2 separate regions of the Homo sapiens genome follow, and region 1 is linked to region 2. The links come from fine-mapping of genetic effects on gene expression. Tissue or cell type: whole blood. Region 2 holds a variant in brackets; the other region holds the start of a gene. All regions are shown on one strand. Distances are from middle to middle.

The links. PIP is the estimated chance that this variant, and not a neighbour inherited with it, causes the effect.
Region 1: it holds the start of MED8, and the variant in region 2 is fine-mapped to the expression of MED8 in whole blood (INTERVAL, PIP above 0.99).

What each region holds. Positions count from the first base shown.
Region 1 is chr1:43,387,332-43,392,742 of GRCh38, reverse strand. MED8 (mediator complex subunit 8) reads left to right here and starts at 2,943. Exons shown (of 7, transcript NM_201542.5): 1 at 2,943-2,984; 2 at 4,315-4,433; 3 at 5,096-5,240. The coding sequence starts at 2,979. It overlaps SZT2 (SZT2 subunit of KICSTOR complex), which reads right to left and starts at 2,844. Exons shown (of 72, transcript NM_001365999.1): 1 at 2,748-2,844. The coding sequence starts at 2,774. RefSeq lists a silencer at 2,524-2,853 and an enhancer at 4,294-4,433.
Region 2 is chr1:43,294,040-43,300,418 of GRCh38, reverse strand. No RefSeq gene overlaps it. Among named protein-coding and RNA genes, the nearest start is that of TIE1, 3.8 kb to the left of the region's middle. The variant T/C (reference allele first, on the strand shown) is at 3,004.

The sequences.
Region 1 (5,411 bases), 93 kb before region 2:
AAATCAGGGAGTTAAAAAATGCTTAACTTAGGCTGGGCACGGTGGCTCACGCCTGTAATCCCAGCACTTTGGGAAGCCGAGGCAGGCGGATCACGAGGACAGGAGATTGAGACTATCTGGCTAACACGGTGAAACCCCGTCTTTACTAAAAACACAAAAAGTTAGCAGGGCATGGTAGCAGGCGCCTGTAGTCCCAGCTACTTGGGAGGCTGAGGCAGGAGAATGGCGTGAACCCGGGAGGCGGAGGTTGCAGTGAGCCAAGATCGCACCACTGCACTCCAGCCTGGGCGACAGAGCGAGACTTCGTCTCAAAAAAAAAAAAAAAAAAGCTTAACTTTTGGCTGAGACTCCCAGGATTGTGTGTCTTGACTTGAAATTACTTTAGATCTGTACTGCTCTATATGGTAAAGACTACTATATGGGGCTACTGAGCACTTACAATGTTGCTAGACCAAGATGGGATGTGCTATCAGTGTAAAATACAACACTAGATTTTAAAGACTTGGTACCAAAAAAAATGTTAAATATCTCACGATGTTTTGTATTTTATTACATTTTGAAAATTTTGGGAGTTTTGGGTTAAATATATAATTACATTTTATTTCATTTGTTTCATTTTTTTTTTTTTTTTTTTTTTTTTTTTTTTTTTTTTTTTTTTTGAGACGGAGTCTCGCTCTGTCGCCCAGGCTGGACTGCAGTGGCACAATCTCAGCTCACTGCAAGCTCCGCCTCCCGGGTTCACGCCATTCTCCTGCCTCAGCCTCCCGAGTAGCTGGGACTACAGGCGCCCGCCACCACGCCCAGCTAATTTTTTGTATTTTTTTTAGTAGAGACAGGGTTTCACCGTTTTAGCCAGGATGGTCTCGATCTCCTGACCTCGTGATCCGCCCGCCTCGGCCTCCCAAAGTGCTGGGATTACAGGCGTGAGCCACCGCGCCCGGCCTTGTTTCATTTTTTTATGTGGCTATCAGAAAATTTAATATTACACATGTGGCTTGCTTTAGATTTCTACAGGACGGTGTTGTCCTAGACTATCTGCCTAAAAGGTATGTTGCATTTCCCCACAACATCCCTCCACCTCCTTTCACTTTAATCTATAATGAAACATCCTCTAAACTGTTTCATAGTTTTTCTTGTGTTAATATTTCTGATTGATCTTGATTGATATTTCTGATGCATGAGCTATTCTACCACCTCTGTGAACATGACTATTTTAAATAAGGCATAGTTTCCTACCACCATATTCAATGTTGGGTCTTACCACACCAAATCCCAGTGAACTGGAGATTTACCATTCTGTGGCTACTTTATTACTTATACCATGAACAATATGGTTAAGAACACAAGGACTGGAGCCTGGCCATCTGTTTTGGAGTCCTGACTCTAATACTTAATAGCTGTGTAACTTTGTTACTTTTTTTTTTTTTTGAGACGGAGTTTCACTCTTGTTGCCCAGGCTGAAGTGCAATGGCATGATCTCAGCTCATCGCAACCTCCACCTCCCGGGTTCAAGCGATTCTCCTGCCTCAGCCTCCCGAGTAGCTGAGATTACAGGCCTGCGCCACCATGCTTGGCTAATTTTGCATTTTCAGTACAGACAGGCTTTCTCCATGTTGGTCAGGCTGGTCTCGAACTCCTCACCTCAGGTGATCTGCCCACCTCGGCCTCCCAGTGTTGGGATTACAGGTGTAAGCCACTGCGCCCGGCTTACTTTGTTACTCTTAATATCTCTGTGCCTCAGTTCCTAAACTAAAAAAAGGAGATGATACAGTGTCCACTTCATAGGGCTGAGGATTAACTGATATTGGTAAAGAGCTTAGAATGGTACTGAGCATGCAGTATGTATGCAGTAATGAATACTATTTCTATCATTATACACATCTCTCACCCTTCCCACCTACTGATATGTTGGCACCTTTCCTGGTGGTGGTGTTTTATCCGAATCTGAGATTTTAAGCTCAGATCTTCTAACTCCAAACTGCTAGTTCCTGGATGAGTGGCATTTGAGTAAGGTACTAAATCTTTCTCATTTTTCAGTTTTCTCCTCTGTGAGAATGCCACCTTCCTTGCACAAGTCTGAATGACACAACATATATAAGGTTCCTTGCATGTTCCTTAGCATTTAACGAATATATCATATCACCTTTCTGGTTTATTACATGTGATTCTCACAACACACTATAAGACAGATATTTTATAAAGAAGGAAACAGGATCCGGGAAGACTCGCCTGAGGTTGCACAGATTAGCTACATGACAGCGCCAATATTGGAACGAGGTCTCAGTCCGACTCAAATGTTTTTTTCATGAAATTAAAGCTGCTTTTCTAAAAGCATGAGCCCTAGAACTAAATAAATTCATGCTGTTTATGGTATTCCAATGCCTAAAGAAATGCAAAAACCAGCAAAGTAAATCTACTGCCGTGTTGCCCATTGAAACTGCAACAGAAAGTCAAAATACAAGTTTTGTTAACACCGCTATAAGTCTTAGAGACGACGACGCGGGTGACATGTCAGTAAACAAAACAAAGCGAACAGTTACTCCTTTAGCTCCCCGAGGAAACTGCGGACCGCGTCCCATACACAGTCCGCAGGGGTACCATAGTCGGGCCTTCCGGGCTGGGCTGGTCCCTGCCGAGGCTACGCAGCCCGGCCACCCCCAGACCTAGAGGAGGCCAACGCCACGCCTGCCCGCCGGACCCTCCCCCTCGGATCTCGGGGCCCAGTGCTGCGCCCGCCCGCCCCTCACCTCCGGCTCCGGGCGCTCCGAGGCCATCACACAGCCCTCCCGCGCCGGCCCGGGCCAGTGAGGGTGTTCCACTCTTGACCCCTGACCTCGCTACCTCGGCACCCAGCAGGAACCGGAAGTTGGTGGGAGGGCCGAGTTCCAGTTTTCTGATTGGTGGACGAAGCCTTCTCGTAGGCGTTTGCTGACTGGAAAACCGGAAGTGAAATCGTGGCAGCCGCCTCGGCCGCCGCAATGCAGGTGAGAGTTGCGTTGGGCGTACTAGCGGCTGGCAAGCTTCGGGTACAGGGACCGAGAGTGGGCTGGCTAAGGAGAATGAAGAGTTGGGACTGAGAAGAGAGGGCAGAACCCACGGCTGATAAGGGAATGTGGGCTGGGGGGCGAGGCTAATTGGAGCGGGAGCGGCGGCGATTAGAGGTGGGGGTGGAGCTTGCCTGACAGGAGACAGTCGGGCTAAATCCGGAGGGAGGAGGCAGCACCTGTTTGCTTGGCGTGGGAAAGGATTAGGTTGTAATACGGGGAGGCTGAGATGCAGTCCAAGGAAGACGGCTCAAGAAGGTGGTGGGTTGGCTCAGGCCCTGTCCTAAGCTGCTGGATGGAGGCTGTTGGTTGCCGATATAGCAGGGGATCTAATTGGAAAGAAGCCCAAGCAGTGAGGGAATTGTGGGCCGCGATGGCTGAAAGCTAAGCAGCTTATAATCAGAGGCCATGGTGGAACCCGGGATCAAGTTTCTGTCAGGCAGGTTTGCAAGACAGTTTTGCATCCCTCTTCCCAGCCTGTGCCCTATAGTTGTTAAGGGTGAAGAAATGGAGTAAAACAGGAGACCACCGATGGGAAGGAAATGCTTTGCAGACCCCCAGCATTTTAATTTGTTTGTCCAGTGCTTAGAAGCATGTGTGGTTTTTGTTTTTCATTTGTCACTTAGTTTCTTGCAGCTGGTAGTCTCAATAAATGTTAATGGGTTGACTGAGCTTGTGAAAGAGGCACGGGAATATTGACACAGAGATAGATGATTGCATATTAATTCAGCAAGGAGAAGGTTGAAACAAAATGATGAGAGCAGATGGAAAGCTGGAGTCGTTGGTTGGGGGAGGGAAAGGGGAGAGCAGGACTGGTGTTCAGAGAAGTCTTCATGAGTAGGCAGATTTCCCAGAGACTGACAAGACAGCCAGGCTCACAGATGCTAGGATGGAGGAAGCTGGAGTGCATGTGCTACAGAGGTGCACATGAGAGAATGATCTCCTGGCATTAGGTCTGTCGAAAATGTCTCAGTGAGGGAGTGTAGGGTGTACCTAACACAGAGAAAAACCAGGCATAGATTAGGAGGTGATGGGGAAAAGGAATCAGTTGGTGGAAGGACTTGGGGTCAGGCAAACAGGTTGGAAGGTCTCAGGGTTGATGCTGTCTATAACCCAAATACCAAAGATAGAAAACAACCTGGCTATCCTATGCCAATGAGATCCTGTGTTACCTGACTGGTGTTGCACACCATCTCCTTGGCTTTCCAGCCCTCCTTTCTATGTGTCATACTCGTTTATCTGGGTGACCAACCTGTTCCTATTGGTGCAGAGAGAGGAGAAGCAGCTTGAGGCATCATTAGATGCACTGCTGAGTCAAGTGGCTGATCTGAAGAACTCTCTGGGGAGTTTCATTTGCAAGTTGGAGAACGAGTATGGCCGGCTGACCTGGTAAGAGTTACCAGGGCAAGCTAGGAAGGGCTTATGGGTGGGGGGGCCTAGCCTCCTGATGAATAGGACATTTCTAATGATGTAACCATTTATCAGTTTGCAAACATCTTTTGATTTGGAAAGAGCTGGGTTTCCTAACATTTAGCAAGTGGATTCCATGGCAAGGAAGTAGAGAAATGCTCAGTTTCCTAACCCAAGTTCTTTCTAGCTTTCAATTCTTACCCTTTGACTTCTCTGGTGAGGAGGTCCTCCCACTACAGCTCTATTCGTGCTGGATCTCTTGCCACAGATGTGGCTGAGTCTTTTAGAGCCAACCTACTCTGAAGTGTGGATCTTATTTCCAGGCTGGAAAGGAGGCTTTTACCCGGTTTCTGAAGTTTTAGTTATAACAGTGTAGCCCTGGTTCCTATTTTGCCACTGTTCCTCACCCCATTCAAACAATGAACTGGGTTTTTTCTACGTCTGTTTCATAAACTGAAACTATGTCCCTCTTTCATAGCCCTGTCATCCCTGTTAGTCTGTTCCCACTTAGGCTAGTCATAGGGCTATGAGACTTTTGGAGGTGAATCCAAGTGTTCCTAGCCTGAAGGAACTAGGACTATTTTACTAAGAACCACCCAGGGAAGGGGTACAACATTCTTACACCTTGTTACCACCACCAGGCCATCTGTCCTGGACAGCTTTGCCTTGCTTTCTGGACAGCTGAACACTCTGAACAAGGTCTTGAAGCATGAAAAAACACCGCTGTTCCGTAACCAGGTCATCATTCCTCTGGTGTTGTCTCCAGACCGAGATGAAGATCTCATGGTAAGAGGAGAAAAAGAATACAACTTGGGAAATTAAGGGGTTTTTTAGGCTTCTTTAGTATTTAGGGAAATTAAGTTATTAGCTGAGAGCCTAGAAATAATTTTGGAGGCCTTGCTTTTTGTTCTTCTGAAGGCGGGAGAGCCACTCCCAAATAGTGCTGTAATAACCTGA
Region 2 (6,379 bases):
AAACTGAGGCTTGCTGTGCTCGAGGGCACCCTGAGGCTGTGGCAAGGCTGGGACTTGAACTTCTGACTTAGTCCTTGCTTTCTTGGTGCCAATCGCTCCACAAGGGCTCACATTAAGCAGTCCCGGGGAGCACACAGGGAGTATCGGTTGCATAGATAGTCCTCAGCTTAAGCTGCTAATGAAAGCTTCAGCTTATTGTCTGCCAGGTGTCATTCATTTTGCGGCAAACCCCTGCCTATTCCTGGGCACTGGGGCAGCAGAAGTCTGCCCAGGGAGGTGCACTCACTCTTGACGGCTGACAACAACCTGGGAGCAGTCGCACTGCTTTGGCAAAGTCTCTAAAGCCCCATGGATCTTGCCTCTGCTTCCCTCCCAGACTCACCTCTCCCTGCCCTGGCACCCGTTGCTCCACCTCTTGCCACCACTGGCAGTTCCCAGAACGGAACAAGACCTGTAGGTACAGAACGCCCACGAGGAGGCCCTTCCAGGGAGCAGAGGGAGCAACCGTTGGATGGGCAGCCTTGCTGGTTAAATCGATGACCCCTCTGACCCGGAATGGAATGGTTGGGATGGATGAGACTTGGTGTCAGTTTAGGTGACTTAGGTCTGGTAGTACAAACCCTCCCCCTGGGCCTGGGACATCTTCCCAGAGTGTGTTCTGGGTGAAGGCTTCATTCTCCTCTGAATGCACCGGGCTCACATTCACTTTTCTCAGGAGGCTGGGTCCCTGCAGCTTGGTTGAGCTGGTTTAGGCCCAGGGCTCTTCTGAAGCGCCCTGAAAAGTCCCAGGAGACGCTTTGACTCCTGGAGTAGCATAGAAAAGGATCGGGAAAGACCTCCCTACTGATGTGTGACCCACAGAGATTCCCATTCCTGGGCCTGAGGCTGGGAGGAGCTTTCTCTAGACAAGGCTTTGGGTGGGATGGGAGTAGGAGCAGGGGGAGAGTGGTGGATGCCTTACACTTCAGCTCATCCTGGTGCCAGACCTTTGAATCTGGAATGAAAAAGGAGCTGGAAAGTGCTGGGACTGTTTGTATGGCAGGATTCACTTTTGTGGAACTTTTCCTTTGGTTCTTGGAAGACCTGGGGGGCCTGATGTCATTTTGCAAATGTGTGGAGAGCACTTAGGCAGCATTCATTCTTGTTGGAAGTGACACAGATATTGGCACAGGTATTTGCTTTGAATGGAAAAGTTTGAGACTGCAGGATGCTGGCACATGCAAAGATTCTGAGCCCATCTGCCCTCCCCACTCTCAACTGGGAAACAAAAACTGGTAATAATGATCTGTACATAAATAAAATGTTAATGGAGTTTGTACACAAGAATTTGTATTATAAAACAATATCCTACAAGTGTAAAAGTATTTTTACATGTGTTGAGATTATGCTGCAAGTAATTTAAATAGCATCAGTTTACAAACAATATGTCCCAAATGAAATATTACTGCACACACAAATTTTGAGTGGGTTGTGTATACATCTGCTGTTGCAGATGTATAAGACGACTTAAGCCATAATGCACATCTTGAAGTCTCAGTCACTCGAAAGTTATAGGCCAAAAATAATGCAAATATGAAGTTCTACACATTGGAGGGTTAACCTCCAAACCCAAAACAAACTGAATTGATAATGATAGAGTTAAACTCAAGGCGCCAGGTCAACTCAAGGTAATTTATTTTTTAACAGCCAAGCTCAGTGGCTCACACCCGTAATCCCAGCACTTTGGGAGGCCGAGGCGGGCATATCACTTGAGGCCAGGAGTTCGAGACCAGCCTGACCAATGTGGTGAAACCCCGTCTCTACCAAAAATACAAAAATTAGCCGGGCGTGGTGGCACGTGCCTGTAATCCCAGCTACTCAGAAGGCTGAGGTAAGAGAATCGCCTGAACCCGGGAGGTGGAAGTTGCAGTGGAGCCGAGATCGCGCCACTGCACTCCAGCCTGGGTGACAGAGCTAGACTCCCTCTCAAAAATAAAAATAAAAATAAAAAAACTCTTCCTCACTACCATACTCACTATCAGTTTGGCAGAAGTCTGGGAGTTTTATAACACACTGTCTTGGCAAGGTTGTGGGGAAATAGGCATGCTCTATATAGGCATGTTGATGTAATTCTGATGGAGGGCAACTTGGGAATATCTGTCAAATTCATGAACACACGTATCCTTGACTCACAATTGCATTCTTGGGAATTTATCCTGCAGATATACTCCCACAGTACAAAATGTCATGGTTATTCATTGTAGCATTATATGTAATGGCAGAAGATTAGGACCAATTCCTGTGTCAATCAATGGGGAAATGGTTAAATAAATTTTGATGTAGCTATACAGTAAAATATAACAGCTGTGAAATTAGTTGAAGAAACTCTCCAAGTCTATATACTGGTTTTTAAAAGCTCTCTAAGACATACTAATTAGTAAGTGATAAAAAGAAGGTACAGAAGTGTATATTGTATGTTAGCGTTTGCCTAAAAAAGAAAAAAATAGGAATATATATTCATACTGCATGTACAGGTTGAGTATCCCTTATCCAAAATGCTAGGGACAAGAAGTGTTCAGATTTCAGGTTTTCTGAATTTTGGGATATTTTCATATACATAATGAAATATCTTGGGGATAAGACCCAGGTCTAAATATGGAATTCATTTATGTTTCATGCATACCTTATACACATAGCCTGAAGGTAATTTTAAACAATATTTCATATGATATATATGACCCATCACATGAGGTCAGGTGTGGATTTTTCACCTGTGGCATCACAAAGTGTTCAAAAAGTTTCAAATTTGGGAGCATTTCAGATTTCACATTTTCGGATTGGGGTGCTCAACCTGTATTTGCACAGGGTGAATATCTGTTGTGGTATTAAGTTCCACTTTGGAGGGAGTGCTCATTTGGAAACCATTCAAAGAATTTTTAAAAAATTTTTCTTTTATGTTAGTAAAGGTCCATCCCCTGTGGCCACCCCAGCGGGTTGGACTCACTGTTCTCCAAGTGACCGTCA[T/C]GATCAAGAGGGACAGGAAAGCCTGACTCTCCAAGTTCCACTCATTTCCCTTAACAGGTGGCTCAGACAACAAACTGCTTTATGCCCCTTAGAACATTCATTTGGGTCTTTTGTGTGGCTTCTTACAATGCCCTTAGGGTTTTAGACCACATGTAAATACATGTGGAAACATTTGACAGACTCTTAAAAATGTCTATGAATTTGATTTAATTTTCTCTATAGACAAACTCCATAGTCTTCTTGCAGAAATGATGCTCAGTTGAGATCCATTTGGGTGAAATTGTTATGCAAATTATGCATAAAAAAGCTGGTGAAATTCGGGACTGGATCAACAGAGGATGAGTCAGGGGGGAAAGAATGAACCTCTCTAAGTTGCTCCCCAAAAATGAAGTCAGGGCTATCTGAATTAAAGTGTCAAATTGGTACTCTTCTAAGTAACGGAGACCTCTCCCAATTAAACTTGCCAGACTGGGGTGGGTTACATGGGTGACCATGCAATTATTTTTCAAAATAGTGAGAGGCCCGGCACAGTGGCTCATGCCTGTAATCCCAGCACTTTGGGAGGTCGAGGCAGGCAGATCGCCTGAGGCCAGGAGTTCAAGACCACCCTGGCCAACATAGTGAAACCCCATGTCTACTAAAAATACAAAAAGATTAACCAGATGTGGTAGCACGCGCCTGTAGTCCCAGCTACTTGGGAGGCTGAGGCACAAGAATTGCTTGAACCCAGGAGGCAGAGGTTGCAGTGAGCTGAGATCATGCCATTGCACTCCAGCCTGGGTGACAGAGTGAGACTTTGTCTCAAAAAATAAAAAAGAATAAATAAAAGATAAACAGTGAGAGTCCCATCTTTGCTTCTTAAAGTCAAACTATTATATATAAACTATGTAAAGTCAGTATGTGAAGTAGAATGCTGCTTTGTTTTGCTCAGTGATTTTAAAGGGAAGGGGTAGTTGCAATTTTCCTCCCAAATTACATTCCTGTGTTCTCCTGAAGCATGCCCTTGTGTCTTGGCTCCTAGAATATTTTGAAAAGTATTTAAGATATTTCTTTGTTATGTGCAACTCCAAATGCTGGCATCTTTTTATATGCCAATAAGTGCCTTAACTCTCTGTACTGTTTGTCACAATTGCTTTTCGAAGAACCAAGTAAATGCTGCCCAAACAAATTAGAAAGTTTTCTTTTGGTTGAAATAAGCAACACTTTAACCCAATTCCTAAGTTCTGCCTTTGCCTGAAATTGACTTTACTGATAAATCATTCTTCATACTGATCAGCAAAGAAAGGAAAAATATCTTGTTCTTGTTGTTGTCCAAAAAAAAGAAAAGAAAAAGAAAGTAATTCTTTTAAGATTTTGTTTAGGTTAATAGTAACAATGGTTGGTACTTTCACTTAACTTCAGCAGCAACTAAAGCCACATTGTCAATTCAAAAACAGTTTTTGTTGTTCTTCCAGGAAATAACTCTGTAGTGAGAGGAAGTTTGCAGTAAATGCTTTTGGAGCATCAGGCTGAGGCTGTGTCCCTGAAGCTAGTGTGTGTGTGTGTGTGTGTGTGTGTGTGTGTGTGTGTGTGTGTGTGTGTTTTCACTCTAGTCAGAAAAGACGTGCCAGGTGTTTGTGACAAGCTGTGATGAGGACTGGAGATTACTTGGAATCCATTGTGTTCTTTTCCTTGTTGGAAAAAGAAAGCTTCTAAAAACAAGCCCTTATTTAAAGGAAGCCCCAGTTAATTCAACAAGGCTCTGAAAGAAGTCCCTTTTATAGAAACTGCTTGACAAAGGCCATTTGGCCCAGAGGAGTCCTGTGAGGTCAGAAACTGAAATCAACACCCACATAGGGTTCAGGCAGTTAGAAGCTCAGAGTGTACTTAGTAAAGCATAACAAACTTTTACCCACTTTGGTCAGAATGGAATTTACCCAGCAATGCAGAGTCTTATGCTAGAACACCAACAAACCTCAATTATAATGGCTAACAGTTGCTACGGGTTTACAGGTGCCGGGAAAAGGTGATGCCTACACCTCATGGACTCTCAGCCTTTTGAGATGGGTGTCACTATTATTATTATTATTATTATTGTTATTTTGAGATGGAGTCTCGCTCTGTCACCCAGGCTGGAGTGCAATGGCACAATCTCGGCTCACTGCAACCACCACCTCCTGGGTCCAAGCCATTCTCCTGCGTCAGCCTCCTGAGTAGCTGGGATTACAGGCTAATTTTGTATTTTTTTTTAGTAGATATGGGGTTTCTCCATGTTGGTCGGGCTCAGGCTCGTCTCGAACTCCCGACTTCAGGTGATCCGCCCTCCTTGGCCTCCCAAAGTGCTGGGATGACAGGCGTGAGCCACCGCACCCAGCCGGGTGTCATTATTATGATCCCCATTTTGCAGATGAGGAAACAGATGCATCCTCAGGTTAGTTAAGTGATGGTGTTCAGCTTTGACCCCAGACAGTTTGATCCACAGCCAGAGAGCTTAACTATGCCCAAGGCCTGTTAGACTATACTACCTAGACAGGAAGAAGGCCAGCACACCCAGGGAGGCTGCTTTCATCTGCATGTCATCCTTCAAACTCTTAAAAATGATTGAAGAAAAACAATCCTTTTGTATCCAGCATGCATCTGAAATTTTATTCTGGAAAACAATGAGCTCAACTCTGTGCTGTGTGATGATGGAGTGGTGCCCTTTAAAAGGCAAGGGCTGACCAGGAGAGATGGGCAGGCATGAATTTTAAGGATGTCTTGCCTTTAAGTTCCATCAGGTCCTTGCTTTAGCTCAGGTCACTCTGAAATCCTAGAAGAATAGCACACCCAATAGCACATGACACAAGTGACTCATTGTTCTTCTGCCTCAAACAACAGCAGCCTACTTAGCATACAAAACACATTTTATGAGACAAAGCTGGCTCGGGCCACAGCCACGCATTCTTTGCAGGAGCCACACATGGGGGCTGCTTTCTGGTTGTTCAATCTTACTTTGTTTATTTATTATTATTATTATTATTACTATTACTTTAGAGACAGAGTCTCGCTCTATTACCCAGGCTGGAGTGCAGTGGCGCAATCATAGCTCACTGCAGCCTCGAACTCCTGGGCTCAAGCAATGCTCCCACCTCAGCTTCCTGAGTAGCTGGGACTATAGGTGTGTGCTACCACCCCTGGCTTCAATCTTACTTTGAGGATAAGAGGTAGTGACAACACAAGTCCATTAGTGCTCATGATGCATGATTTATTTCGTGGTGACACAGGGATGATGAGGAAAGGCTTGAAGGCAGTGTCTCAACTCCTCTTTCCCTAGCCCTTTCTCCCTGAAGGCATATTGGTGCTTTGCCAGCTCCACCCTTGCCCGCACCCTAAGGAAGGGACACTGGCTCCCACTGGG